Homo sapiens: one gene and its partners. The gene in region 5 interacts genetically with the main gene of each other region. Each region holds a gene or a part of one and is shown on either strand. Other genes may lie near its edges.

Region 1 (4,257 bases), on a different chromosome or scaffold from region 5:
TGGTTCAATATTTGAAAATCAATCAGTGTAATCCACAGTAACAGGATGAAGAAAAATCACAGAATTGTAACAGCGGACTCAAAAAAAGCATCTGACAAAATTCAACACAGTCATGAAAAAAGTTCTCCGAAAAACAGAAATAGGGAAAATTTCCTCAACCTCATAAAGAACATCTACAAAAACCCTACAGTTAACATTATACTTAATGAAGAAAGATTGAATGCATCTCCCCTAAGACCAGGAACAAGACAAGAACATACGCTCTTACCACTAATTCTAGCCAGTGCAATAAACAAGAAAAAAAAAAAAGAAGAAGAGGGAGAAGGAAGGAGAAAGAAGGAGGAAGGAGAAAGAAGGAGGAAGGAGGGAGGAAGAGGAGGAAGAGGAAGAAGAAGAAGAAGAAATAATAATAAAAGGCACAGAGGTTAGAAACTGTCCCCATGGTTGTCTACACAGAAAATCCCAATGAATCTACACACACACACACTTCTAGAAATAATAAGTGAATTCAGTAAGGTCACAGAACTGGATAAAAATACAAACACTGACTATGTTTCTATATGCCAGCAACGAACATTAGAAATCAAGATTAAAAATACCACACCATAGATAGCTCTTATTATTTTGAAATACATCCCATCAATACCTAATTTATTGAGAGTTTTTAGCATGAAGGGTTGTTGAATTTTGTCAAAGGCTTTTTCTGCATCTATTGAGATAATCATGTGGTTTTTGTCTTTGGCTCTGTTTATATGCTGGATTACATTTATTGATTTGCGTATATTGAACCAGCCTTGCATCCCAGGGATGAAGCCCACTTGATCATGGTGGGTAAGCTTTTTGATGTGCTGCTGGATTCGGTTTGCCAGTATTTTATTGAGGATTTTTGCATCAATGTTCATCAAGGATATTGGTCTAAAATTCTCTTTTTTGGTTGTGTCTCTGCCCGGCTTTGGTATCAGAATGATGCTGGCCTCATAAAATCAGTTAGGGAGGATTCCCTCTTTTTCTATTGATTGGAATAGTTTCAGAAGGAATGGTACCAGTTCCTCCTTGTACCTCTGGTAGAATTCGGCTGTGAATCCATCTGGTCCTGGACTCTTTTTGGTTGGTAAACTATTGATTATTGCCACAATTTCAGAGCCTGTTATTGGTCTATTCAGAGATTCAACTTCTTCCTGGTTTAGTCTTGGGAGAGTGTATGTGTCGAGGAATTTATCCATTTCTTCTAGATTTTCTAGTTTATTTGCGTAGAGGTGTTTGTAGTATTCTCTGATGGTAGTTTGTATTTCTGTGGGATCGGTGGTGATATCCCCTTTATCATTTTTTATTGTGTCTATTTGATTCTTCTCTCTTTTTTTATTAGTCTTGCTAGCGGTCTATCAATTTTGTTGATCCTTTCAAAAAACCAGCTCCTGGATTCATTGATTTTTTGAAGGGTTTTTTGTGTCTCTATTTCCTTCAGTTCTGCTCTGATTTTAGTTATTTCTTGCCTTCTGCTAGCTTTTGAATGTGTTTGCTCTTGCTTTTCTAGTTCTTTTAATTGTGATGTTAGGGTGTCAATTTTGGATCTTTCCTGCTTTCTCTTGTAGGCATTTAGTGCTATAAATTTCCCTCTACACACTGCTTTGAATGCGTCCCAGAGATTCTGGTATGTGGTGTCTTTGTTCTCGTTGGTTTCAAAGAACATCTTTATTTCTGCCTTCATTTCGTTATGTACCCAGTAGTCATTCAGGAGCAGGTTGTTCAGTTTCCATGTAGTTGAGCGGCTTTGAGTGAGATTTTTAATCCTGAGTTCTAGTTTGATTGCACTGTGGTCTGAGAGATAGTTTGAAAACTGGCACAAGACAGGGATGCCCTCTCTCACCGCTCCTATTCAACATAGTGTTGGAAGTTCTGGCCAGGGCAATCAGGCAGGAGAAGGAAATAAAGGGTATTCAATTAGGAAAAGAGGAAGTCAAATTGTCCCTGTTTGCAGACGACATGATTGTTTATCTAGAAAACCCCATCGTCTCAGCCCAAAATCTCCTTAAGCTGATAAGCAACTTCAGCAAAGTCTCAGGATACAAAATCAATGTACAAAAATCACAAGCATTCTTATACACCAACAACAGACAAACAGAGAGCCAAATCATGGGTGAACTCCCATTCACAATTGCTTCAAAGAGAATAAAATACCTAGGAATCCAACTTACAAGGGATGTGAAGGACCTCTTCAAGGAGAACTACAAACCACTGCTCAAGGAAATAAAAGAGGACACAAACAAATGGAAGAACATTCCATGCTCATGGGTAGGAAGAATCAATATCGTGAAAATGGCCATACTGCCCAAGGTAATTTACAGATTCAATGCCATCCCCATCAAGCTACCAATGACTTTCTTCACAGAATTGGAAAAAACTACCTTAAAGTTCATATGGAACCAAAAAAGAGCCCGCATCGCCAAGTCAATCCTAAGCCAAAAGAACAAAGCTGGAGGCATCACACTACCTGACTTCAAACTATACTACAAGGCTACAGTAACCAAAACAGCATGCTACTGGTACCAAAACAGAGATATAGATCAATGGAACAGAACAGAGCCCTCAGAAATAATGCCGCATATCTACAACTATCTGATCTTTGACAAACCTGAGAAAAACAAGCAATGGGGAAAGGATTCCCTATTTAATAAATGGTGCTGGGAAAACTGGCTAGCCATATGTAGAAAGCTGAAACTGGATCCCTTCCTTACACCTTATACAAAAATCAATTCAAGATGGATTAAAGATTTAAACGTTAGACCTAAAACCATAAAAACCCTAGAAGAAAACCTAGGCATTACCATTCAGGACACAGGCGTGGGCAAGGACTTCATGTCCAAAACACCAAAAGCAATGGCAACAAAAGCCAAAATTGACAAATGGGATCTAATGAAACTAAAGAGCTTCTGCACAGCAAAAGAAACTACCATCAGAGTGAACAGGCAACCTACAACATGGGAGAAAATTTTCGCAACCTACTCATCTGACAAAGGGCTAATATCCAGAATCTACAATGAACTCAAACAAATTTACAAGAAAAAAACAAACAACCCCATCAAAAAGTGGGTGAAGGATATGAACAGACACTTCTCAAAAGAAGACATTTATGCAGCCAAAAAACACATGAAGAAATGCTCATCATCACTGGCCATCAGAGAAATGCAAATCAAAACCACTATGAGATATCATCTCACACCAGTTAGAATGGCTATCATTAAAAAGTCAGGAAACAACAGGTGCTGGAGAGGATGTGGAGAAATAGGAACACTTTTACACTGTTGGTGGGACTGTAAACTAGTTCAACCATTGTGGAAGTCAGTGTGGCGATTCCTCAGGGATCTAGAACTAGAAATACCATTTGACCCAGCCATCCCATTACTGGGTATATACCCAAAGGACTATAAATCATGCTGCTATAAAGACACATGCACACGTATGTTTATTGCGGCACTATTCACAATAGCAAAGACTTGGAACCAACCCAAATGTCCAACAATGATAGACTGGATTAAGAAAATGTGGCACATATACACCATGGAATACTATGCAGCCATAAAAAATGATGAGTTCATATCCTTTGTAGGGACATGGATGAAATTGGAAACCATCATTCTCAGTAAACTATCGCAAGAACAAAAAACCAAACACCGCATATTCTCACTCATAGGTGGGAATTGAACAATGAGATCACATGGACACAGGAAGGGGAATATCACACTCTGGGGACTGTGGTGGGGTCGGGGGAGGGGGGAGGGATAGCATTGGGAGATATACCTAATGCTAGATGACACATTAGTGGGTGCAGCGCACCAGCATGGCACATGTATACATATGTAACTAACCTGCACAATGTGCACATGTACCCTAAAACTTAGAGTATAATAAAAAAAAAAAAAAAAAAAATACCACACCAATTGCATTGCTTGAAAAGAAAACCACTTACATATAAATCTAATAAATCTGAGCCAATATAAGTTTGCTGTGAAGAGCAAACGAGTAATAAATGTGTAAATTGTTAGTAAAATGTAAAATATTAAACAAATTGTAAGGCATTCTTATCTGTGGCTTTCTTATCTAAAGAACAGGCCTCCTTTAGTCTGCTACACATGAATTTCCTAGATGGATATTCAACAATGCCACTCAGAACAGTCTCCTAGGCTTTCCCTATAAATTAACTCAAATGTAAATATTAAGTTATTACCCAAAATGTATTACCCAAATTGATATTGACAA
Region 2 (4,257 bases), on a different chromosome or scaffold from region 5:
TGATGGACCTGCCGACGTGTGGAGCCAGGAACTTAAAACAACATTTAGCCAAAGCCACAGCTTCAGGTACCATCAGCTGCATGGCCACACGTGTGTCCCTGTGTTCCCTCAGCCTCCCAGGGCACCCCCTCAGTCTGGGCTTCTGTTTCAGGGATTATGGGGAGCCCAAAACCAGCCATCAAGTCCATCTCGGCCTCAGCACTCTTGAAGCAACAGAAGCAGCGGATGTTGGAGATGAGGAGAAGGAAATCAGAAGAAATACAGAAGCGGTAAGAGGAGCAGATTTAATATTCCCCGCTTGGGTCATCCATCTCAGGCGTCCTCAGAACGTCTTCATCGATTTCCAGAATGTGACTTCAGGTTTCGGTTGGCTGCGTTTTAACTCTGAAAGTTTAAAATAGTTTTCCCATAACCTGAATAGCATTTAAGGCTGTATTATTTCTTACACTGGTGACTCCCAACACCAAATGGTACAGGTTAGAGTCGTTATCACCATGGAAAAGGGAAAGGAGTGAAGTGTATGTAAAGAGGGTTTTTGTGAAGGGGGAGAGCGTAGGTTCACATGCTGGCTGTCATTTTCTCTCTCTCTCTCTTTTTTTTTTCTGAGACGGGTTTTCACTCTGTCACCCCAGCTGAAGTGCAATGCTGCAGTGTCGGCTCACTGCAACCTCCATGTCCCAGGCTCAAATGATCCTCCTGCCTTGGCCTCCCAAGTAGTTGGGACTACAGGCATGTGCCACTATGCTTGGCTAATTTTTGTATTTTTTTATAGAGACTGGGTTTTGCCATATTGCCCAAGCTGGTCTCAAATTCCTGGACGCAAGCCTGGATTTGCCTGGCTGCCATTTCTGGGTTTTGCCGCAATTCAGTTTTTTATGACAGGCAGAGCCAGTGAGTAGAATACAGTTCTTTGGATAAAGGACAAAACTGAAGCACTAAAAATGGAGAGTCATTTTAGAGGCAAAAGCAAGTGGAAATGTGTTACTTGGCTTCAGCCAATAATTAAAAAAAAAAAAAATCAAGTGGAAATGCATAGGGTAGGTGGACAAATGAATGATTCCTGAACTCAGGTCACCTGAATACTAATGAGAGCTGCGGTTCACAGGCACTTCATACGTACTCCATAAACACAGTATCTGAGCCTCCGGAGGCTTCTCAGCCTTGTTTTACTAATAGTGTGCCTGGAGATCAGAGAGCTAGTTTATGGTGGGGCCGAGTTTTGGGCTCACACATGTTGTGCTCTGGTGCTGAACCTTTTGCCATCCCGAATCTGGGCTGCTGAAAGGCAACCACATCCATGAAAGGGAGTCAATGATAAGACAAGAGGAAATTCTTTGGGAAAGTAAGAGAATGGGTTTGGTCTCAGGCAGATTAGTTTGAAGTGCCGGTGGGATATCTATAGAGCTATTCATCTTGAGCCTACAGATGACATAAATTATATACGTGGACACAGAAATATGTATGGAGTTGGGGGCCTCGTGGGAAATAGAGAATGCCCATCAGCTTGAAGGCATTGCGTAATGAAAATTTTCAGAATTTTGTTGGCCAAGGAAACCTTATCTTTGCGTAGGATTTGATAGGCAGTTTGCAAACACAGCCTAGAGCTTGCAAGAGTGGCTGTGCGGTTGGGAAGAGTACTGCTCTGGGATGGCCTGGCTCTAATCCTGAGTCTGGCCCTTGTGAGTAATGTGATCCTAGGCCTCAGTTTCTTCATCGATCAAATGAGAAGTTTGGACTAGATGATTTCTGGGGTTTGTTATTTGTTTTTAAATATCTCTTATGAGGCTGGCTTGGTGGCTTATGTCTGTAATCCTAGCACTTTGGGAGGCCGAGGCAGGCAGATCGCCTGAGCCCAGGAGTTTGAGACCAACCTGAGCAAAATGGCGAAATCCTGTCTCTACAAACAGTACAAAGATTAGCTGGGCATGGTGGTGCACACTGTGGACCCAGCTACTCGGGAGGCTGAGGTGGGAGGATCACCTGAGCCTGGGAGGCAGAGGTGGCAGCGAGCCGCAATCGTGCCAACGCACTCTAGTCTGGGTGACAAAGCAAGACCCTGTCTCCAAAAACAAAAGTAAAATAGCTCTTAAAACTATTTTTTGCCAGGCATGATAGCTCACGCCTATAATCCCAACACTTGGGAGGCTGAGGCACGAGAATCACTTGAACCTGGGAGGCAGAGGTTGCAGTGAGCCAAGATCATGCCACTGCACTCCAGCCTGGGTGACACAGCGAGACTCTGTCTCAAAAAAATCAAAAAAAAGAAAGGGGATGTAAAATAATCGCTGCAAGTTACAGTGTTTTTCATTAATGACTTCCAAATGTCTCACATGTATTGTCTCTTCCCAGTAGCATAAACAAAGATGCAGGGAGGTGCAATGAGTTCCTACAGGCCCTAGAGCTGACGGTAGGGGTGGGAATACAGTTCACACCGCGTCTTCAGCTGTGTTCCTTGTGGATGACATCCACTGGACAGCCAATTGATAAAAACAGTTATCAGTTCTAAAGTGTTAGGACAATTACAGCTTATTCAAAGAAAACTCAATTAAGGAGGAGTTAGTAAAGCTAGTATTGTTCTTATCGTGTGCAAATTTGAATTACCAGCCTAGAAGGGGACATTATTTTGCTAACAACTAGCTCCCAACTGGTGGCCTGCCTGCCGCCTCCCAGTCCACTTTGAGTTCTAGAGTTTTTATTTTCGTAAACCCTGTTTGCGTATTTTGACTGTATGTTCTTTAAAGATTTCTGCAGAGCTCAAGTGAAGTTGAGAGCCCAGCTGTGCCATCTTCATCAAGACAGCCCCCTGCTCAGCCTCCACGGACAGGATCCGAGTTCCCCAGGCTGGAGGGAGCCCCGGCCACAATGACGCCCAAGCTGGGGCGAGGTGTCTTGGAAGGAGATGATGTTCTCTTTTATGATGAGTCACCACCACCAAGACCAAAACTGAGTGCTTTAGCAGAAGCCAAAAAGGTAACTGGCATCTCTTCTCTTTAGCACTTGAGTTTGCATTCTGTAGAGCAGAGCTGGAGGAAAGACAGACACCTAATAGCTCTTTATTGATCGTGATCATTAGAGTCAGTGTAATTTGAAAACATGGTAGTGTCAACATAATACTAAAAGAAAGTTAGATCTGTTATCTCAACACTTTTTCTTGTCAGGCTACAAGAGGTAGCCTAGAGGAAGATAGTGTTTTATAACCAGAGGCATTGACAGTAGGAAAACAATGCTTGGAATTGTTGAGGTGAGACTGTAAAATGGTGGTTTAAGGAATCCTTTTTTTACGTTTATTTATTTATTTATTTATTTATTTATTTATTTATTTATTTTTTGAGAAGGAGTCTCACTCTGTCACCCAGACTGGAGTGCAGTGGCGCAATCTCGGCTCACTGCAACCTCCTCCTCCCAGATTCAAGCGATTGTCCTGCTTCAGCCTCCCGAGTACCTGGGACTACAGGCGCCTACCACCACGCCCGGCTAATTTTTAGTAGAGACATGGTTTCACCATGTTGGCCAGGCTGGTCTCGAACTCCTGACCTCAAATGATCTGTCCACCTCGGCCTCCCAAAGTACTAGGATTATAGGTGTGAGCCACCATGCCTGGCGGTTTTATTTTTTATTTGTTGAGACAGACTATCCCCCTGTCACCCATGCTAGAGTGCAGTGGTGCAATTATGGTTCACTGCAGCCTCAACCTCCCAGGATCGATTCATCCACCTGCCTCAGCCTCCCAAGTAGTAGCTGGGACTGCAGGCACATGCCACCACGCCTTGGCTAATTTTTGTATTTTTTGTAGAGATGGGGGCCTCCCTTTGCTGCCCAAGCTGGTCTTGCACTCCTGGACTCAAGCAGTCCCACCTCAGCCTCCCAAAGTGCTGGGACTACAGGCATGAGCCACTGTGCCTAACCAAGAATCCTTTAAAAGAAATCTTACACAAAAGTCCAGTCCCATGACAGGTGAAAGCTGAGTTGCTGCGGCTGAAGTAGGGGTAGGGCACCCAGAGCCCCACCTGCCCACTTCCTGAGTGCCCCAATCGAGCCTCTCTCTTCCCTTAAGTTAGCAGCTGCAGCCAAATGAAGGGCAAAGCTTGCTGTATGCCAAAACCTTACCTATAATAATAACAACAGGAATACCTACAATAACCATGGCACATGTCCATATTACTCAGTACTTGTGATATGTGTGTGCCATGTATTTACTATGTTTATTTATTTATTTATATATATATTTTTTGAGATGGAGTCTCGCTCTGTCACCCA
Region 3 (4,257 bases), on a different chromosome or scaffold from region 5:
GAGGGAATTTATCCTTCCCCGTGTCCTTCTAGGGCTCCAGGTCTGACAAAGGCCCTAGTCCAGAATCCAGTACTAATTTGGCTGCCAGGAAAATGTATTAGGTCCAGAGCTGGAGGGAGAATTGCTACCCAGGGAGGGCAAGATGGAAGCCTGGGACAGGAAAACAGGACTTTTTCGCCTCCTAACCTGTGTCCCTCCCTTCCTAGAGAACTTCTGTGGACTTGGGTGCCATGGGGGCTGGTGACCACAGAATCTCATAACCTTTCTTTACCACAGAACCTCTGGGCAGACATTTGCCAACTCCAATTCCTCCCGCTCCCACGCGTGCTTCCAAATTATTCTTCGAGCTAAAGGGAGAATGCATGGCAAGTTCTCTTTGGTAGATCTGGCAGGGAATGAGCGAGGCGCGGACACTTCCAGTGCTGACCGGCAGACCCGCATGGAGGGCGCAGAAATCAACAAGAGTCTCTTAGCCCTGAAGGTAGTGGGGCAGCTAGAGCTGGTTGGCCGGGAGAGCTACTGGGAAGGGATGGGGAGGGATCAGTGCAAGGAAAGAAGGGACCTCAGTTGTTCCTGCTGCCCCCACAGGAGTGCATCAGGGCCCTGGGACAGAACAAGGCTCACACCCCGTTCCGTGAGAGCAAGCTGACACAGGTGCTGAGGGACTCCTTCATTGGGGAGAACTCTAGGACTTGCATGGTGAGTAGGGTCACTTTGAAGGTGATGGTACAGGAGGAGACAGAGTTGCTTTCCACAGAGACACTTAGTCCTGTCCCTGGGCTGGAAGCTCAGCACTGCTGGCTGCCTGGGTTTCCAGGCTGTACCGTGACTGGGCTTCCAGACCCTGCTTTAATGCACGAGACTCCTTGTGGCCTAACCAAGCGTGGAGGAAAGGATCTATTCCCTTTAAGATGTGTAGGTGCAGCTCTTGGTTTGGGAGAGGTCATTCCTGCATTACCTGATGAAAAGGGGGTTCCAGAATTCGGAAGATGGGCCTTTGGGTCAGCAGGAGAGGGAAGTCCTTGTCTTTTCCATGGCCTCCCTCAGGTTCACTGGCTCCCAGCCTAGAAAATAGAAATAGCCTGGATCATAAGGCTGTGTCCTTGAATGACGTCCTCTTTCCTGTTTTATCCCCAAGCCCCTGTATGTGAGATCTGCCATCCTTCCCCTCAAGAGAATATTCTCCCCTACCCTTTGGGTAGGAGTCCTTTCATGAGGAAGGTGGGATTTTCTGACTAAGCTCTACCTAAGGCATTATCCTTTGGCCTAAGGGAACTGAAGTTTCCAGCAGAAGCCACAGAGCTTTAAGATAGGACCTTGGGCTGGGCGCGGTGGCTCACGCCTGTAATCCCAGCACTTTGGGAGGCCGAGAGGCAGGTGGATCACAAGGTCAGGAGATAGAGACCATCCTGGCTAACATGGTGAAACCCCATCTCTATTAAAAAATAAAAAAAATTAGCCAGGTGTGGTGGCAGGTGCCTGTAGTCCCAGCTACTCGGGAGGCTAAGGCAGGAGAATGGCGTGAACCTGGGAGGCAGAGCTTGCAGTGAGCTGAGATCGCACCACTGCACTCTGGTCTGGGCGACAGAGTGAGACTCCGTCTCAAAAAAAAAAAAGAAAAAAGAAAAAGATAGGACCTTGGTAGCAAGACTGTCTCAGTGAAGGAATAATGAAGCAAAAGATAATTAGATGTGTCTTTGAAAGCAGGAAACCAATGTCTGAGGCACCTTAATTTGCAGTGCCCATGGGGCAAGTGGCCTAGCACAGCGCGGTGCTAAATGACTCCTCCCACCAATACCATGTGGGTCTCCAAAGCTTGAAGAAACACCCTGACTGGAGGCCCCTCAGGGACAGGCTATATAGCATCCTCACCGTGCCTCTCAGCCTTTAATCACCCACCCCTCTTTTGCAGATTGCCACGATCTCACCAGGCATAAGCTCCTGTGAATATACTTTAAACACCCTGAGATATGCAGACAGGTACTAGTACCTACAGCTAGGTGGGATGCGGAACAGGACTGGGCAAGGGAAGGGCAGTGATGAGAGGGGAGGAGGCTCTGGGGCCTCAGGGCCTACTGTATACTCCTCTGTGACTCTGAACCTGAGGCTTGGGAGTTCCGCCGTGATGCTAGGTCTGTCCCAATCCTCTCCGGGCCCTGCTGGAGAGTCAGCTGGGTGAGGGGCTTTTCCAGTCCAGCTTTAGTTTTCTCTCTCCTTGGCTGAAGGCAAGGTTGCCATTCCATCCCCTTGGAGCCTCAAGCCTCGAAGCCTGGGCGGTGCCACATTCCTCTGGTGAGTACCAAGGGGGTGCTGTGGGATCTGAGACCTCCTTGTTTCCTCAGGGTCAAGGAGCTGAGCCCCCACAGTGGGCCCAGTGGAGAGCAGTTGATTCAAATGGAAACAGAAGAGATGGAAGCCTGCTCTAACGGGGCGCTGATTCCAGGCAATGTAAGGACCAGGATGCGGCCAAGCAAGACAGAAGTGTGGCCTGCTGAGGCGGCACCTGGGTCACATAATTGTCTTTCTTTTTGGCCCTCTCAGTTATCCAAGGAAGAGGAGGAACTGTCTTCCCAGATGTCCAGCTTTAACGAAGCCATGACTCAGATCAGGGAGCTGGAGGAGAAGGCTATGGAAGAGCTCAAGGAGATCATACAGGTAGGCAGCTGGCCCTGGACAGGGAGCTGGATGCAGCACGGCCCTCAGTATGCTCCACACCATTCCCAGAACATGACCTGGGCCTTGTTCCCACAGGTATTCACATAGCAAGAAGCAGCCCTCTACACCAGCACTCTTTAATTCTTTGCCTGTTAACCCAGCTGTTCTTCTAATTATCACAACCCCTTCTGCAGGTTGGCACACATAGGCTTTCTGACATCACACTAGCCAGAGCTAGTCTCTCCTCCACGCTCCTGATAGAGGATTTGAAGGGTGATCCATATGCAGGGATCTTGTCTTGTGTTTTGGTGAATGTTGCAACTCTTGTGCTGAATCCAAGGGCCAAAAAACATGAAGTATAGGTAATAGGCCCTAAGGGTATGACTTGAGATCAATCCTGTCTCTTCCATTCACAAACTGATTTCCTTGTGAAATTCATTTAGCCTCACTGGGCCTCAGTTTTTGCATCTCTGAAATGGTCAAGGTAGGATGGTTGTATTTGAGCGTTCAGTAATATGCTTATAAAGTGTCAGCACAGTACCCAGTGTGTGGTCAGGGTTCAGTAACTGGTAGGTGCCCCTGCTACTGTAATCCCTACTGTGGAAGAGCAAGTGACTGGGAGGCAGGAATTTACGTCCCAATGGTGGGGCGCTCAGAGGATTGCAGAGCAGGAAGGAAGAACTTGGGGCAGGTGTAACTGAGGAGGGACTGTGAAGGGTAAGTGCTCAGGCCTCTCCTCCCCTTCCTGGAGTGCTCAGGGGTACAGAGTTTTGTAAGCACATGGCACTTTCAGGATGAATGAGAGGCTCACCGTGGTCAGAGCAAAAGGAGTGAACAGGTGATGGAGGGTAGTTAAGGCTGTGGACAGGTCAACAGGGATCTGATGCTAGAGTCTTCTAGATGGTTCATCTCACAGGCCTGGACTGCATCATGAGGAAGCCTTTGGAGGGTGTTAAGCAGAGTGGTGACATGGGCATGTCAGAGCTTTAGATATATCATATGGCCACCATGTGGAGCCTGGTTTGGGGGCTTGAGAAAAGCAAAGGTAGAGGCAGTTAGGAGATTGTTGGAAAGGGTTCAAGAAAAACTATTGCCAGCCAGGCGCGGTGGCTCATGCCTGTAATCCCAACACGTTGGGAGGCCGAGGCGGGTGGATCATGAGGTCAGGAGTTCGAGACCAGCCTGGCCAACGTGGCGAAACCCCATGTCTACTAAATACAAAAAATTAGCCGAGTATGGTGGCGGGCGCCTGTAATCTCAGCTACTTGGGAGGCTGAGGCAGGAGAATTACTTGAACCAGGGAGGCAAAGGTTGTAGTGAGTCAAGATCGTGCCACTGCACTCTAGCCTGGGTGACAGAGCAAGACTCCATCTCAGAAAAAAAAAAAGAGAAACTAGTGCCTAGACCAAACTGTGTCCGTGTTCATGGGATTGGAATGAGGACATGAGATTCATGAACCATTTAGATATACAAGCATGAAAATCTTACAAGGTACCCCCCAAAATATGTACTCTCTCTCTATATATATATGTTTTTGAGACAGAGTCTCACTCGTCACCCAGGCTGGAGTTTAGTGGTGCAATCTTGGCTCACTGCAGCCTC
Region 4 (4,257 bases), on a different chromosome or scaffold from region 5:
TACCTATGATGCAGTGTACTGCTGCAATGAACATGAATGCCATCATCGCTATGCTGAATTATATGTGATTGGTAAGAAAACAGAGGTTTTGTTCATTTTGTTCCACAACTTGAATTTTCATTATGGACCCTCCTTATATTAGAGTCCTGTTAAAGATGTAAGAAAAAATTTTTTTCATTGAATTTTTTGGAGTTTTTGCTTTATATTAATATTTTAATATGTTTCAAATAGATGTCAATATCAATATCTCATGTGAAACTGATGGGTACTTAACTAAAATGACTTGCAGATGGTCAACCAGTACAATCCAGTCACTTGCGGAAAGCACTTTGCAATTGAGGTATCATAGGTACGTATTATTTTTGCTGTTTTGTTTTTCTGTGGGCACAGTGAGATAAAAATTTTCTTTAGAAATATTACAACAGTAGTCTTACAGATTATTTGCTTCCTGAAAGAGGAAAGTATAATATAATGAATCAGGAAATTTTTGAGGGATTATATAAATTGGTGATTCTTGAAAAATATTCACACCTGAGATTAAAAAATTGTAATTTGTTTTTACTTCAAATTATCTTTTCTGAAAATCAATCAATTCTGAAAAATTTGTATTTTAACTCTTGAATGAAATGCAAGAAAATGTAGTTTATATATATTTTAATTTGACTTAGTTGACTAGAGGAGAATGTGAAAGATTATAAAAGTTTCGTATCATTTGGCTAAAGATTAATGTTTTGGAAAAAAGAGGTAAAAACAGATTATAAGAGATAATATGAATGGTTTTTAGAACTGAGTGAGATTACTTAGGAAATAAATACTTATGGTTAATAAAGGGTAATGTGTTCTAATGAGAAGTAATTTGTGCTTGTTTATTTTTACTCTTCTATGTTTTAAAAAGAATTCAAGGCATCGTCTTATAGTGGTCCCTTTCTTTCTAAAATCATTTTATCTAAAATGATACAACCCTTGATTATATAATAGATTTTTATTTTTAAAAATATCCCATAGTAGTAGTCAAGTAAATATATACTGCTGTTAAACACTGTGTCCCAATTTATATTTTTATTTGTAGTGGAGACTTTCAATTTGTATAACATGCTCATTTATTCTTAAAATATAAATTTTCAACTAGAAAAATAAATCCCTTCTCTCAAATACTGTGATCTGAAGTCTATTCCTAATGCTGCCAGTCTCTTCTTATGTAGCGTTAGGAAAAAAATGTGGCAATTCGTACATTTCTCAAATAGCTGCCTTCATCCTACCTAATATGAGTATTTTAAAATCAGTAGAATTGTTCATGATATGAAATTTTACTTTTATAATCTGTCTTTACATTCTTTTCATGGCATTTTCACATTAGAAAAGGTGTTTATGGAAAACTATTATGTTAAGCCCCATGCCTTGTTTCTCTTATTAACATTTACAGAATAACTATGAAACTACATTTACTTGGGTGAGTTTCTTAACTTCCCTAAGCCTCAATTTCCTTGTCTGTAAAACAGAGAGAATAATAGGACTTACAGTGTTTCTGCGAGAGTTAATGACATATTTCATCTAATTATAATCACATGGTATAATTTCTCCTTGTAAATATTCAATATATGGTTTTTGCTGTCATGATAATGATGCCAACTTTTCGATTTCAAGTGTACTAGTACTGTGCTTCTACTTTGTTCTTATTTTCTACCCCCAGATGACCCCTCACTCCTCATTTTCATTTTTGCCCACGCACCACCATTTATTCACACACACACACACACACACATTCATGATTGTAATTTTGAGAAGACAAGAAAAAGAAGTGGTATAGAAAATAGAAAATGACAGAAGAATATAGATTTTTTAGCTTCTTCTAACTTCCTCACTCCCATCTCTTTGGAAAGAGTAATTGCTACTTCAGCTATTTAAATATAGTATTCAGAGCAAACATTGGCCCAAGAGGTTATTTCAAAGAAGAGGAAAAAGACTTTATGTCAAGTTTGTCCAACCCATGGCCTGGGGCCCCCATGTGGACTAGGATAGCTTTGAATGCAGCCCAACACAAATTTATAAACTGTCTGAAAACATTAGGAGATTTTTTTTGCAACTGGTTTTTTTTTTTTTTTTTGATTCATCAGCTATCGTTAGTATATTTTATGTGTGGCCCAAGACAGTTCTTCTTCCAGTGTGGCCTAGGGAAGCCAAAAGATTGGACACCCCTGCTTTATGGGTTCTGAGGTGGAGTGTTGGCTAGGACTCACTTATAAAATTTTTTTTAAATTTTCTTTTCTGAGAAAATGAGGAATATACATGGTTATATAATTCACATACATATCTGAAATTGGTATTATATTAACTTATATTAATTTGAACTAGAAAATTATATTCACCACTCATTTGTGGTGAAATTTAATTCTTTCTTCAAAGTGTGAGGAATTTGCCTTCCTTGCCATCTCAGGAATGCTCCATGACTACTTTCATCTATATTTTAAATATTCTATCACTAATACATAATGTTTGTTTAATTTTCAAATTATTGTAGGTTCTGTCTCTAACTGGATCATTTTCTTCTTTTTAGAGTATTTATTTCATTTGCATCCCTGCTTAGTGTCTAATGAAATATTTAATAAGAGTTACTGTCAGTTTCTGTGGAAAGATATAGAATTGGGAAAAATTAAAAAATGCCTTTCTAATAAGAATGTCTTTTTTTAGATGGAGTGAAATTGTCTGTATTTTATTTATTTTAATTTAATTTAATTTAATTTTATTTTGTTTTTGAGACAGTCTCCCTCTGTCGCCCAGGCTGCAGTGCAGTGGTACCATCTCCGTTCACTGCAACCTCCGCCTCCCCAGTTCAAGCGATTCTCCTGCCTCAGCCTCCCTAGTAGCCAGGACTACAGATGTGCATTTGTAGAGACAGGGTTTCCCCATGTTGCCCAGGCTGGTCTGGAACTCCTGGGCTCAAGTGATCAGCCCGCCTCAGCCTCCCAAAGTGCTGGGATTACAGGCATGAGCCACCGCACCGGGCCTTCTGCCTGTCTTTTAAACTTGGGGTCCCCAGTCCCTGGGCCACGGACCGGTACCTGTCTGTGGCCTCTTAGGAACCCGGCCACAAAGCGGGAGGTGAGAGAGCAGCATTACCACCTGCGCTCCACCTCCTGTCAGATCAGCGCAGCATTAGATTCTTAGAGGAGCAGAACCCTATTGTGAACTGGGCATGCGCTCCTCATGAGAATCTAATGCCTGGTGATCTGAAGTGGAACAGTTTCATCCCGAAATCCTGAACCATCTCCCATCCCCCATTAGTGGAAAAATTGTCTTCCATGAAACCGGTCCCTGGTGCCAAAAAGGTTGGGGACTGCTGTTTTAAACAACAAATCAGAATTCTCAGATATCTTCTTGTTGCTTTTATTAATGTATACTAATTGACTATTTTTGTATCTTTTAAAGGAGCAGCCTTTACTGTTCTGATATTCCATCTATTCATCCCATATCTGAGCCCAAAGATTGCTATTTGCAGAGTGATGGTTTTTATGAATGCATTTTCCAGCCAATCTTCCTATTATCTGGCTACACAATGTGGATTAGGATCAATCACTCTCTAGGTTCACTTGACTCTCCACCAACATGTGTCCTTCCTGATTCTGTGGGTATGTCAAGCTGCGTTGTGTCTTCATTTGTGTTAGCAGATTTGTATGCAGATTGATGCAGATTTAATGTTATATTTTGCCATTTTCTGATCACATTAGATTTTGAAAAAAAAATTGTTCCTGTTTACAGTGGTATTGAGAAAATCAGCCTTAGGAAGTTTTACAGTTTTGAATTCATTTCAAATTATTTATAGCAGACTTTTTTTAGCAATAGGAATATTTTCTGCACACTATTAGATGAAATACATGGGTCATTATGAATGAATTTTAGTAGTGTTTTTCTAAATAAGGCATTATTTTATGTTTTTGTTCCAATGTAGTTATGAAAACATGTAATATTTGTAATCCAAACGTTTAATTTGAATATTCTGAGGTTCTCAATAATCTGAGTACTCATAACTCAAGCCTTTAATTTGTGAGGCTATGTAGGGCACAGAAGCATTTAAAATAGCTAAATTGAAGTGGAGGAAATAGACAACAATGACATACATTATATTTTAAACATTCTTTTCAAAAAACTTTTGATTTCAAAGATATTAAGAGAGCCCTTGGAAAATGTGATATATTCTTTCCGGTTCATTGTGAAATCTCTGAGAAATGATTGTGCAACAGGAATGCAAAAATATCTTTT
Region 5 (4,257 bases):
GACAAATGCTTTGAAAGAGGAGAAAATCATTACTAATGAAACTCTGGTCATTGAAAAACTGTCAAATAAAACCCCACGATCACTTTCTTCTCAAGTAGATACACCCATAATGACAAAATCATGTGTGACTTCCTGTACTAAGGAGCCAGAAACTTCTAATAAGTACATTGATGCATTTACTACAAGTGATTTTGAGGATGATTGGGAAAACTTACTAGGTAGTGAACCTTTTGCTATGCAAAATATCGACATGCCTGAACTCTTTCCTTCTAAAACAGCCCATGTTACTGATCAAAAGGAAATTTGTACCTTTAATAGTAAAACTGTTAAAAATACGTCAAGAGCAAATACAAGTCCAGATGCCAGGTTAGGAGATTCAAAAGTATTACAAGATCTTTCTTCAAAGACATATGACAGAGAATTAATAGATGCAGAATATAGATTTTCACCAAATTCAAATAAATCAAACAAATTATCCACTGGAAATAAAATGAAATTTGAGAACTCTTCCAATAAAATTGTTATTCAAGACGAAATTCAAAATTGTATAGTTACATCTAATCTGACAAAAATAAAGGAAGATATTCTTACTAACTCTACTGAAGCTTCTGAAAGGAAGTCAGCTTTGAACACAAGGTATTCTAATGAACAGAAAAATAAGTGCATTTTAAATCAGTCTATTAAAGCCCCTGTTAATACTGATCTTTTTGGCTCTGCAAATCTAGGCAGTAAAACCAGTGTTAGTAACCCAAATCAGACTAGTGCATCAAAAGTAGGTTCTTTCTTTGATGATTGGAATGATCCCTCATTTGCCAATGAAATTATTAAAGCATGTCATCAATTAGATAATACCTGGGAAGCAGATGATGTAGATGATGATTTGTTGTACCAAGCATGTGATGATATTGAAAGACTAACTCAGCAACAAGACATTAGAAAGGACAGTAAGACATCAGAAAGTATATGTGAGATCAATAATAATTCCGAACATGGAGCCAAACTAACTCAGCAACAAGACATTAGAAAGGACAGTAAGACATCAGAAAGTATATGTGAGATCAATAATAATTCCGAACATGGAGCCAAAAACATGTTTGCTATATCTAAACAAGGAAGTAATTTGGTACAATCAAAGCATTTGAATCCAGGCAGCATTTCAGTGCAGACATCTTTGACAAATAGCTCACAAATAGATAAGCCAATGAAGATGGAGAAAGGGGAAATGTATGGAAATTCTCCAAGATTTTTAGGTGCCACAAATTTGACTATGTATTCTAAGATCTCAAACTGTCAGATAAATAATCTGCATGTGTCTTATACTAACACTGATGTTCCAATACAAGTGAATAGTTCCAAATTGGTTCTTCCAGGAAGTTCAAGTTTGAATGTAACTTCAGATCATATGAATACAGAAATTACTACTTATAAGAAGAAATTGAGTACTAATCAGCCATGCCATAAGACTGTAACAGATGAAGCTCAGAGCAACCTTAACACAACAGTTGGATTTTCAAAGTTTACATTTACAAGGATGAAAAATTCTCAGATTCTTTCTCAGTTTAATCAAAATTGTATAACTGGAAGTATGTCTGATACCAAAATTACACAGGGTGTGGAGAAAAAGAAAGGTGTCAACCCATTACTGGAGGAAGCTGTTGGACAGCAATCTTTGGTGAAACTTTCTGAATCTTTGAAACAATCTTCAAAAGGTATGTATGAAATATGAAATAGTTTTCTTTGAAAAGCATCTTAAAAAGTAGTAAAATAATTATTTGTTGTTTTTGAGTGTGAGTAATGTATAAGGTAAAACTATTCTATGACTAGTTAATTTTAAGAATTAACTAGAATTCTTAAAATGATACTTGGAAATAATTATACGGCATTATACAGAGTAGTTGGTTTATTTTTCAAAATATTACATTGAATTCTTTCCCAGCACTTAATACAATGACTGGCATATAGTAGGTACTCAGTAAATATTTTTTGAATAACTTATTCTTTCTTGGAAAATCATACCTTTAGATATATGTATTATAGTGTTCATTAAGATTGTATTTACTAAATTGTTTTAAAACTTGAGTAATCTGGGAAGCAGATGATGAAGCAGTGAGGTAAATAATATTTAGAAATTTAGAGCATTCTAATTAAACGTCTTTACTAGTGTGATATTTGATATAAACGTGCTAGCGGTGATGGTTAAAATTATGATTTACTTATTTGATAACAGCTATCATTTCTGATTCTTCCAATTTCTCTTTTCCCCAAGTCTCCATTCTATCAATAAGTTTCATTCTTTCAAAAACCGTATCCCCAGACTCCATTTTTCTTTCTACAACAAGTTAACATTTCTTGATGAGACTACTGCAGTTCTTTTATCTATCTCCTTTCAATTCTTATCTCCAAACAGTGGAATAGCCTTTTAAAATTGGATGGGCAAAAATGGCGTTTCTATGCTTAAAACAACCTTCAATGGCTGCCCGTCATATTTCAAATAAAATCCAAACTGTATACTGTGACCAACAAAGCTGTGGATTATCTCTCTTTAACCTGCGTCTCCTCTTTTTTCCTTACCTACTAAGCTTCAGCTATACCAGCTATCTTTTAGTTTTTCAAACAGTGTATGTTTTTCTTCCTTGTCCAGGAACTTAGACCGTGCTCTTCCCTTTGACTAAAACTACTTCTTTTCAACATGTGACCCCTTCCCCACTCTTTTGTTGGTGCTTTCTTACATCTCAGTATAAGTACTACTTTCTCACAGAGGCCTTCCTTGAAGAGTCTATAAATAGATCTCCTTGTTTATTTTTTATTTCCTAATTGCTTTCATCACAAGTTGAAATTAAATATTTAGTGACTCTTCTCTGTCTTGTTGGCATTACTGTTCCAACTTTCCTATCTAAGTGACTTTTTTTAAAAATTTACAATAGTAATATGCTAGTTATTTAAAAAGAAAAGTAAAACAGTATAGAATAATTTAAAGGAAAAAGTTAAGTCTTCTGTTTCTCCTTTCTGATAACCATCCCTTACGGAAAACCACTATTAATAGTTGGTATGATGTAGCATTTTCTATGAATATAAAAAGATATGTGTGTGTGTATGTACGTATATATGTGTATGCATATATATATACCTATAGATCTATTTAAATATTAATAAATCTGTATACCCACTATTTGGCAACTTGCTTTTGCCTTAATATATTATAGCTGTCTTTTCCTATTAGTACATATAAATTTATTTTAGTCCTGTTAATGACTATGTGATATATATGGTGGATGTATCATAATTTAACTGTTTCTCTGTGATGGAAGTTTGGGTTGGTTGCAGTCTTTTGCAATTACAAACAATACTCCAGTAAATATCCTTCTGCATAAATTTCCGCATGCTTGTATAATTGTATCTGTTAATTCCTAAAAAATTGCTACAAGAGGAAGTTTTAAAATTTGATGGATACCACCAAATTTCTATCCGAAGCAGTTATACCAATTTATCTTATCAAAACTTACAGTAAATAATTCTCTACACCCAAGGGTGTCCAATCTTTTGGCTTCCCTGGGCCACATTGGAAGAATTATCTTGGATCACACATAAGATACACTGACACTAACAACAGCTGATGAACTAAAAAAAAAAAAAAAAAAAATCACAAAAGAATCTCATAATGTTGTAAAAAAGTTTATGAATTTGTGTTGGGCTGCATTCAAAGCCATCCTGGGCTGCGGGTAGCTTGCGGGCTGCGGGTTGGACAAGCTTGCTTTACATGATAGCCCAAACTAGATATTTTGAAATATTAAAAATTGTTCTCAATCTATAATAATTTTAAGTATTTAAATTTGTATTAAAGTGAGCATATTGTAACTAAATCAAGCATGTTCCTAGCATGACTTTATTTACAGATAGAGTTGACCCTTGAACAGTGTGGGGGTTAGAGGCGCTGATCTGATTTGCAGTCGAAAGTCTGTGTATAACTTTTGATCCCCTAAAAACTTAACTGCTAATAGCCTGCTGTTGACCAGAAACCTTTCCGATAACATAATTAATTAATACATATTTTGTATGCTCTTATATGTATTATATACTGTATTCTTACAATAAGCTGGAAAAGTGTTATTAAGAAAATAAGGAAGAGAAAATAATATTTACTATTCATTAAGTGAAAGTGGATCATCATAAAGGTCTTCATCCTCATGATCTTCATGTCTAGTAGGCCGAGAAGGAAGAAGAGTAGGAGTTGGTCTTGCTGTCTCAGGGGTGTCAGAT
Region 6 (4,257 bases), on a different chromosome or scaffold from region 5:
CTTGATATCTCCATGCACATACTCATGCTCGTGAATATATTCCAGAATATCCAGCTATGAAAGTATCATACAGAATAAGTTAATGCAGTACCTAACACCAGCCAGCAGAGGACCAAGCTTCAACATAAACTAGCCTTTACTGTACTCAAAACAATTTTTTAAAAACAAGAAGAACATAGCTCACATACAATTCTTAAGCTTAGCTGCAAGACAGTTTTCCGAGAAAACCTTTTGGCATTTGCTTCATATATTTTCTGAAGGTCACTCCCAAAGCGATCCATTATCATAAACCTGTAACTGAAGACAAATATGAAAAGCCAATGAACAAAATACAATGCAAGAAAACCAACTTTGTAATGAGTACTCTCAAAGTAATTTTTTCAAGACAATGTTTAGTAAAGAAGTATTCTTTAAAAAAGAAATACAAACATTTGAAACAATTTCTCCCAACTAGAAATCTCAAAGAGTTCAGAGTGCTTTCAGGTCCTGCTTTTTACCTGGAGGGCCTCTTCCTGGTCGCAGCTAGTTTCAAGAGACTATTCAATTTAAGATAATGCTCACAGAGAGAACCCAACAAGTTTATTCACGGTAAAAATAAAACAAGCTGAATAAAAATGACAGCATTGATTTTTCTCATAGTTAAAATTAATTCATGTTTCTGGATATCAGCTTCCTTCCTGTGACTGTTTCTCCTTATTTTTAAGGTATATTTCAGCAGTAACAACATTCTGCTAAAATCAAGATTCTCGTGAGATGCTTTAACAAAAGCCAGATTCAATACCATTGTTTAAATGGCGTAAAAGGATTGTACATTAAACACTCAATGGCCAAGATTTGGGGAAAAACAAATATCCTGAAAAAACATGAAGATAACTGGCTTTGCATAAAGCAGCTATGTCACCTTGGCTGAGTCACATTACTTCCTGGGCCTCAATTTCCACAGAAGTAAAATGAGAGAGCAGGGACTCACCCTTTCTAAGGTCACTTTCAACACCCAAAACTCAGATTCAATAATCACGTTATATTTCAGTATGTACAGAAAAGCATCACCTATTTGCAATAACACTGCTTAGCTTCTGCTCTGAGGACCACTTTTATCTTCAATAGTTTTCCAGATTCTAACTTGTCTGGTGAAATCATTCAGTAAATCAATAAAAATCAAAACCACACTCAGAATGTATCAGGACATCTCCAATGAGGAAGATTATGAATCATCAACACCATAACATCTAGCATTTACTGAACACCTGGTATGCACACAGCACTACTGTAAGTACTTAAAACGTTATTAATGCATTTAAACCTCACATCACTCTATAAAGTAGGTAACTCCTATCATACCCATTTTACAGCAGAAGAAAACTGATAATTTGTCCTCTAGTATGTGGCAAAATCATGCTTTTAACCCCTGTACTACATATTAACTGAAATAAATGTCAGTAGGATACAAAAATCCCATTTATATGTTATAGGCTTCTATGATAACAATATGACAAGTTCAATAGGGAAGGAAGAGTTGACTAACATTAAAAGACAAGATGTTGAACAAGTAACTCAGAATTCTATTCATTTTTGAACTGGAAGAAAATTAGAAAATCATCTTGTCTAAACATCTTTTAATAAATAAAATAACTAAGGTCTTTGGAGGTAAAGTGATTTGTCCAAGGTTATAAAATTAGTCAGTGGTGGCCGGGCCTGGTAGTTCACGCCAGTAATCTCAGCACTTTGGGAGGCCAAGGCTGGTGGATCACCTGAGGTCAGCAGTTCGAGACCAGCCTGGCCAACATGGTGAAACCCCGTCTCTACTAAAAACACAAAAATTAGCCGGGCACGGTGGCAGGAACCTGTAATTCCAGCAACTCGGGAGGCTAAGGCAGGAGAATTGCTTGAACCTGGGAGGCGGAGATTGCAGTGAGCCAAGATTGAGCCACTGCACTCCAGCTGCACGACAAGAGCAAACTCCACCTCAATTAAAAAAAAAAAAAAATTTGTGACAAAATATATTCATTCATGTAAGATTTCCTAGCACCTTGGCTTGTAAGATAATAAAGTGAAAATGGTAACTTTGACTTCCTGGTTTCCTTTGTGTAACAGATTTTGCAAGGTTGAGAGATGAGACCAGGGCACATATACATGTTGGCTTTTACTAAATAGGTGATGTGTGTAATGATTATAACATAGGATGAGCATCTCAAATCTGAAAATCTGAAATCAGAAGTGCTCCAAAATTAGAAAGTGTTTTTAGTGCCAACAAGATGTTCAAAGGAAATGCTCACTGGAGCATTTTGGATTTCCCATTTTCAGATTTGGGATGCTCAACCAGTAGGTATTAACGCAAATATTCCAAAATCCTTAAGAAATCCCAAATCTAAAATACTTCTGGTGCCAACATTTCAGATAAGGCATACTTAACCTGTAATACACAGGTAACAAAAATACAACCTCTGTAACAGCCTGAAAGGTGGCTAAAACACAACTGCTTAATTCAACATGGGGTCTATTAATAAATTCTGTTACATAGGTCTTTGTTTTTATTCACAAATCACCCTACCACTACTCTTAATAAGACCTTAATCTTGTCACCATACCTAAATCATAAACATCAACTGAAACATGATTCCACAAATTTCACAGAAACCATTACCACATTCTTCTGGAAAGACGGCTCTACCATTGAGTAGTAAAATGAAAGCTATTTCTAAGTAACTCCTCTAAAGTAAAACCTTTGATGTATACTTTTCTGGAGACTTGGATAAAATGTGCAAGTAAAAGAAAAATATAAATCAGTGTAAAATAATTTAATAATGGTAGCAGCTAACATTGCTCTAAGCCCTACATACATATTAATTCAAATGAGTTACAAGGAAAACTAAGCATGTCTGGCATGGAAGGGGGCTGGAAGAATAATCTACTTTCTATTTCTTTACTTTCTAAGACCTATAATGATTCTTTTTAAGAGCTTCAACCTAAAAAGTAAATCAATGCCTGATATATGACTAATGCCATCTTTTTAAAGGAGACATTTCTAGCAACCTCATTTTATAGAAGAAATGGGCTGGGAGGTAAAGTCATCACTAGTAAGTGGTGAGTTAAGACTTAGACTGTGTTCTCATTTGTCACCACACTCTAAGGCACTTCTGATCCACACCAGGGAAGTTCTTTCCAGCAGTGCCCAAGTCAGTCAGCTTACAGAGTCAACCTTGGACCCACTTAGTCCCTGGTCACCTCACAGGAGTCACACAAACAAAAGCCCTGTTTAACTGGTTCTGAACTTTATCATAAAATGGGTGATAAGAATGTATATGGTAAAATGTGATATGACAGTGTGGGCTACTTTTAAAAAGACCATCATTCTCAAGCAACATACCACCACTGACAAACAAAAATCATAGACAAACAAATGAAACCAATTATGATAATCACAGTGATGATGACTGCAAGAAACATTTCCTCAGCACTTACTCTGTGCCCCTTACAATTTACATGTTTTCAATTCATCTTCACAGTAATTCATAAAGTAAGCACTATTATCCTCATCTCACACATAGGGAAACAAGAGAGACAGAAAGTTAACTAGCCCATGACCACACCTGATGGAGTCAAGTACAATCAATCTAGTGCTAGATTTGTTTGGTGTTTAGGTTTTGCTGCAATATACCGTGCTTGGTTTTTTTTTTTTAAGACGTTTATACTCAAATTATGGAAAGAGGAAAAGGCTGTTATTCCAAGTCTAAAAATGCTCTAGCCCCAGGTACACTTTTCTTCCAATCATCTCTATGAAATGTGGTTTTCATAATGTACTGTTCCTTAGGAATATAACTATTGTATACTGGAGCACACAGTCAAACAGATTTGCTTCCTAGCAAGTCATCACTAAGGGTTTTTCTTGTCTTACTCCCCTTTAGACAGTCTTTAATTCACCATGTAAGCCATTTCCCAAATGCCACTTTCACCACCATGTCACCTCATCCCTTGCTCAAGAGCAAGTGATAGCTTCTGACTACCTACTATACATGGGTTCCAAACTGTTCTTTCCTCTATGGGTCTTCATTATCTGCCACCGACTCCTTCTCCAAGTTTATTTCCTTCTCTCTTACACACATGCCCTCTTCCTCTGCTACAGGAAGACGGCCATTGGGTCATACAGTAGAATAAAAGTCTATCCTGCCTGTGCTCACGTTCATCTCCCACTTAAGATGCTGTTCTGCCTCTTCAATGATTTTCTAAACCAGTAGGTTTTAACATTTAAGCGATTAA
Region 7 (4,257 bases), on a different chromosome or scaffold from region 5:
TCAGGAGGAATCAGATGATACTAGCCAACACCTTATTCCAGTGTGTGTGCTATCACCCTGAGGAGTTCCAGATCATCACCAGCGGAACAGACAGAAAGGTGAGTCCTCCCAGTGAGAGATGAGATCTTTCCAGCGCAAGAGAAAAGCAGTGAGGCGTTGTGGTGGAGGGTGCGGGCTCTGGAGTCAAACCACCTTGTTTCCAATGGTGGTCTGTCATCAATCAGCCATGCCACTTTGGAAAGGCCATATCACCTTCCAGTGTCTTCACTTCCCCACCTGTTAAGTGGAAATGGTACCACTGACCTCATAGAGTAAGGATTAAAGTCATGCTTGCTCATGGTGCTTATAGCAGGGGGTCTGGCACATAGTAGGTACTCAATAGATTGGTTTTTATTATTAGGGAATTTCTGAGACTGGAGTAGAATTGCTGTGCCCAAACCGGTTATCACTTTGACTAAATTCAGACAGAAAGGCAATAGAGCTCCTCATCTCTCAGCACTGTACTTCATCAATACATTAAAAATCTACACACGGAGCCAAGCGTGGTGGCTGATGCCTGTAATTCCAGCACTTTGTGAGGCTGAGGCGGGTGGATCACCTGAGGTCAGGAGTTCGAGACCAGCCTAGCCAACATGGTGAAACCCCATCTCTACAAAAAATACAAAAAATTAGTAGGGTGTGGTAGCGGGTGCCTGTAATCTCAGCTACTCAAGAGGCTGAGGCATGAGAATTGCTTGAACCTGGGAAGTGGAGGTTGCGGCGAGCCAAGATTGCACCACTGCACTCCAGTCTGGGTGACAGAGCAAGACTCTCTCTTAAAAAAAAAAAAAAATTCTACATATGGTACAGATTTCCCAGCTAAAGAGGAAGGTGAAGGTTCATCCTTCTGTTTGGGGGAATGTTCACCCTTGGAGCAAGCAAGGGGTCCCTGCTCTCATGAACCTTACTTCCCTAATTTATTTTGGGTAGGAGGGGATGGAATTGGCTAATACACACATGAACCAATCCATGAATGGACAATGAATAACAAGTGAACAAGAGATGAGATGGTGAAAGGACTGAGAAAGGAGATAGAACTGGTGACATGATACTGGCGGGCGGGGGAAAGCTCCTTCAGCTGGGGTGGTGGGTGAAGGCCTCCTTAAGGAGCAGCATCTGAGTGAGGCCTGAATGACAGAAGGACTCAGTCAATGCCTAGACCTCAAGGAAGGGCATCTCTGGCAGAGGACACTCCAGTAAGATGGAGCCCTACTGGGGCTGCCCAGGAGAGTGTCAATTTGGCTTCTTTGGCTGGGAAGGCAGGCAGTCAAGTTCCAACTACTTCTGTGGGTGTGAATCCTGAGAAACATGGGTTCTGGCATGGTTTTCTATCTCTTTAGGCGTTTACTATGAAATCAGAACTTTTTTGTTAACATGATCAAGCATCAACAGACATTACAAAGCAAAAGAAAAAAATTAACAAGAAATAGTATGCATAATGTCTAGCTAGATTCAGAGGAATACAGACTCCTGGCAGAGTGACTGGAACACAGCACGTTTCCGACATGAAACAATGAGAAACAAATGAAATGCACGTGCAGGTTTGCACTCCTGATTCCTGGTCAAGCACTCTTTTTTTTTTTTTTTTTTTCAACTTTAAGTTCAGGGGTACATGTGCAGGATGTGCAGGTTTGTTCCATAGGTAAACATGTGCCGTGGTGGTTTGCTGTACGGATCATCCCATCACCTCGGTATTAAGCCCTGCATGCATTAGCTATTCTTCCTGATGCTCTTCCTCCCCCCACCCACCACCCCCCGACAGGTGCCCCAGAGTGTGTTGTTTCCCCACGTGTCCATCTCTTTTCATCCTTCAGCTTCCACTTGTAAGTGAGAACATGTGGTGTTTGGTTTTCTGTTCCTGCGTTAGTTTGCTGAGGATAATGGCTCCCAACTCCATCCATGTCCCGGCAAAGGACATGATCTTGTTCCTTTTCATGGCTGCATAGTATTCCGTGGTATATATCTGCCACATTTTCTTAAGTTTATTCTGTTTTTTTTGGAGACAGAGTCTCACTTTGTCACCCAGGCTGGAGTGCAGTGGCATAATCTCAGCTCACTGCAACCTCCTACAACTTTCACCTCCTGGGTACAAGTGATTCTCATGCCTCACCCTCCCAAGTAGCTGGCACTACAGGTGTGTGCCACCACATCCAGCTAATTTTTGTATTTTTAGTACAGACAGGGTTTCACCATATTGCCCAGGCTGGTCTCGCATTCCTGACCTCAAGCAACGGGCCCAACTCGGCTTCCCAAAGTGCTGGGATTATAGGTGTGAGCCGCTGCACCCAGCTGGCCGTATCGCATTTTCTTTATGCAGTCTATCATTGATGGGCATTTAGGTTGATTCCCTGTCTTTGCTATCATAAACAGAAGCATTCTTTCCTAAGAAGGAAATTTAAATCTTGAATAGATTGTGCATTCACAAAGTTTAAGGTACAAAGGCAGTATATTCAGGAAAAAAATCACCCTCCTTTAGGCACCTGTCTCTCCATCCCTAAGGTAGTTCTGCTCCCCAACAGGGAACCAAGGTTACCAGTTCCTCTTTAAACTCTACCCTGTGGAATATTTCAGTGCTTTGGAGCAGAAGGGAAAGTTGGGAATAAGGGTGGTGTGAGGAAGAGGGAGGGCGCAGTCCCAGTGGGAGGGTGCCTGTACAGCCCAGTCTCTAGAACTCTGGGGAGTGGGGAGTGCTCATCCCCCAGTGAGAAGGAAGAAAATGCTTTTCCTCCCTCCAGGCCTGAAGCTTAGCTGTGGATGCAGAGGCTGTTCTTTCTTTTACAGCTTGCTTCAGGCTGAATCTTCTTAGTCTTATCAAAAGCCCTTTCTGTCTTAATCCAGGTTTATCAGCACATCAACATGTCTTTAAATAGAATGCAAATTTAAAACCAATACTAAAAATATTAAAATGGTTTTGCCACCCCCTGCTGTAGCCTATTTATAATTTCAGCCAGTATCATCCCGTGGTGTATTTTTGCTCCCTTCTATATAAAGTAGAGCCATCTTTTGTTAGCATGTGCATGGATGACTCTCCTGAGCTGAGTCCTGCTTAATGCTTCTTTCCTGAATTCCAGATTGCTTACTGGGAAGTATTTGATGGGACAGTAATCAGAGAATTGGAAGGTTCCCTGTCTGGGTCGATAAATGGCATGGATATCACACAGGAAGGGGTGCACTTTGTCACAGGTTAGTCCTGGGATAGGAAAAAGCCAAGCCTGGCTTATTTAGACGAGGACATGGAAGGAACTCCCAGGCTAGAGGCAATTGGAAAAGACAACAAAAGGGTCTCAAGGCAACTTGGTTAGAATCAGATTCCAACCAATACTGCAGCCAATGTGGCTGAGAAAGAAAAATCCAGAAGTCACATTTCAATGAGAGGAAACATTTGCACAAGAGCCTTAAGAGCACAAATAAAAGCCAAGACTTAGATTGCTAGGCTTGCTATTTTTGGTGGGCATTGATAATAGAAATGGGGCCTTTAAATGGCCTGGGCTGTCCAGCATACTTCTAAAGTCTTAAAAGCCAGTCTTTTAATTCCACTTTATTATTGCATGATGCGATGCCCTTCCCACCAAAACAAATGAATTAACCAATATTTCAAAGGGGCATTTACCACACAACATGCCGATTGGAACATCATTATCATTTCCTGCCAAGCTCTTTGATTCATCAGGATATTAACAAATAAATGCGGCCAGGCGTGGTGGCTCATGCCTGTAATCCTAGCACTTTGGGAGGCCAAGGCAGGTGGATCACCTGGGGTCAGGAGTTTGAGACCAGCCTGGCCAACATGGTGAAACCCTGTGTCTACTAAAAACACAAAAATTAGCCGGGCGTGGTGGTGCACGCCTATAATCCCAGCTACTTGGGAGGCTGAGACAGGAGAATTGCTTGAGCCTGGGAGGCGGAGGCTGCAGTGAGCTGAGATCATGCCACTCCACTCCAGCCTGAGTGACAGACAGTCCGTCTCAATAAATAAATAAGTAAAAAATAAATAAATGCATGAAATGAATTAAGTTTCACAAGTACATTGACTACAAAGCAGGTATCAAACTAGACACAGTGTGATCCCAATCATATATATGATGTATATGTATACCAGTATACTTATAGAGAAAAGACTGGAAGGAACTAAGCCAAGATATTACTAGTGGTTATTTCTGGGTAGTGGGATGAAATGTGATTTTACCTCTTTGTATTTCCCCCTCCTCTTCAAATTTA

What was found.
Region 1: changes in ETAA1 (region 5) and SLAIN2 are lethal when combined (synthetic lethality), as found in Homo sapiens cells (one large-scale study listed by BioGRID).
Region 2: changes in ETAA1 (region 5) and MCM10 are lethal when combined (synthetic lethality), as found in Homo sapiens cells (one large-scale study listed by BioGRID).
Region 3: changes in ETAA1 (region 5) and KIF2C are lethal when combined (synthetic lethality), as found in Homo sapiens cells (one large-scale study listed by BioGRID).
Region 4: changes in ETAA1 (region 5) and LEPR are lethal when combined (synthetic lethality), as found in Homo sapiens cells (one large-scale study listed by BioGRID).
Region 6: changes in ETAA1 (region 5) and VRK1 are lethal when combined (synthetic lethality), as found in Homo sapiens cells (one large-scale study listed by BioGRID).
Region 7: changes in ETAA1 (region 5) and CFAP52 are lethal when combined (synthetic lethality), as found in Homo sapiens cells (one large-scale study listed by BioGRID).

The regions. Positions count from the first base shown.
Region 1 is NC_000004.12:48,414,221-48,418,477, reverse strand, and holds part of SLAIN2 (SLAIN motif-containing protein 2), read right to left. Parts: intron 1-4,257.
Region 2 is NC_000010.11:13,192,300-13,196,556, forward strand, and holds part of MCM10 (protein MCM10 homolog), read left to right. Parts: coding exon 1-66; intron 67-151; coding exon 152-269; intron 270-2,741; coding exon 2,742-2,970; intron 2,971-4,257. UniProt on the Homo sapiens protein: Acts as a replication initiation factor that brings together the MCM2-7 helicase and the DNA polymerase alpha/primase complex in order to initiate DNA replication. Additionally, plays a role in preventing DNA damage during replication.
Region 3 is NC_000001.11:44,760,004-44,764,260, forward strand, and holds part of KIF2C (kinesin-like protein KIF2C), read left to right. Parts: intron 1-276; coding exon 277-481; intron 482-588; coding exon 589-699; intron 700-1,912; coding exon 1,913-1,980; intron 1,981-2,031; exon of another isoform or gene 2,032-2,104; intron 2,105-2,342; coding exon 2,343-2,448; intron 2,449-2,541; coding exon 2,542-2,655; intron 2,656-4,257. UniProt on the Homo sapiens protein: In complex with KIF18B, constitutes the major microtubule plus-end depolymerizing activity in mitotic cells. Regulates the turnover of microtubules at the kinetochore and functions in chromosome segregation during mitosis.
Region 4 is NC_000001.11:65,601,612-65,605,868, forward strand, and holds part of LEPR (leptin receptor isoform 1 precursor), read left to right. Parts: coding exon 1-71; intron 72-231; coding exon 232-349; intron 350-3,426; coding exon 3,427-3,626; intron 3,627-4,257. UniProt on the Homo sapiens protein: Receptor for hormone LEP/leptin. On ligand binding, mediates LEP central and peripheral effects through the activation of different signaling pathways such as JAK2/STAT3 and MAPK cascade/FOS.
Region 5 is NC_000002.12:67,403,627-67,407,883, forward strand, and holds part of ETAA1 (ewing's tumor-associated antigen 1), read left to right. Parts: coding exon 1-1,709; intron 1,710-4,257. UniProt on the Homo sapiens protein: Replication stress response protein that accumulates at DNA damage sites and promotes replication fork progression and integrity.
Region 6 is NC_000014.9:96,848,871-96,853,127, reverse strand, and holds part of VRK1 (serine/threonine-protein kinase VRK1), read right to left. Parts: intron 298-4,257; coding exon 189-297; intron 55-188; coding exon 1-54. UniProt on the Homo sapiens protein: Serine/threonine kinase involved in the regulation of key cellular processes including the cell cycle, nuclear condensation, transcription regulation, and DNA damage response.
Region 7 is NC_000017.11:9,638,614-9,642,870, forward strand, and holds part of CFAP52 (cilia- and flagella-associated protein 52), read left to right. Parts: coding exon 1-98; intron 99-3,110; coding exon 3,111-3,222; intron 3,223-4,257. UniProt on the Homo sapiens protein: Microtubule inner protein (MIP) part of the dynein-decorated doublet microtubules (DMTs) in cilia axoneme. Important for proper ciliary and flagellar beating. May act in cooperation with CFAP45 and axonemal dynein subunit DNAH11.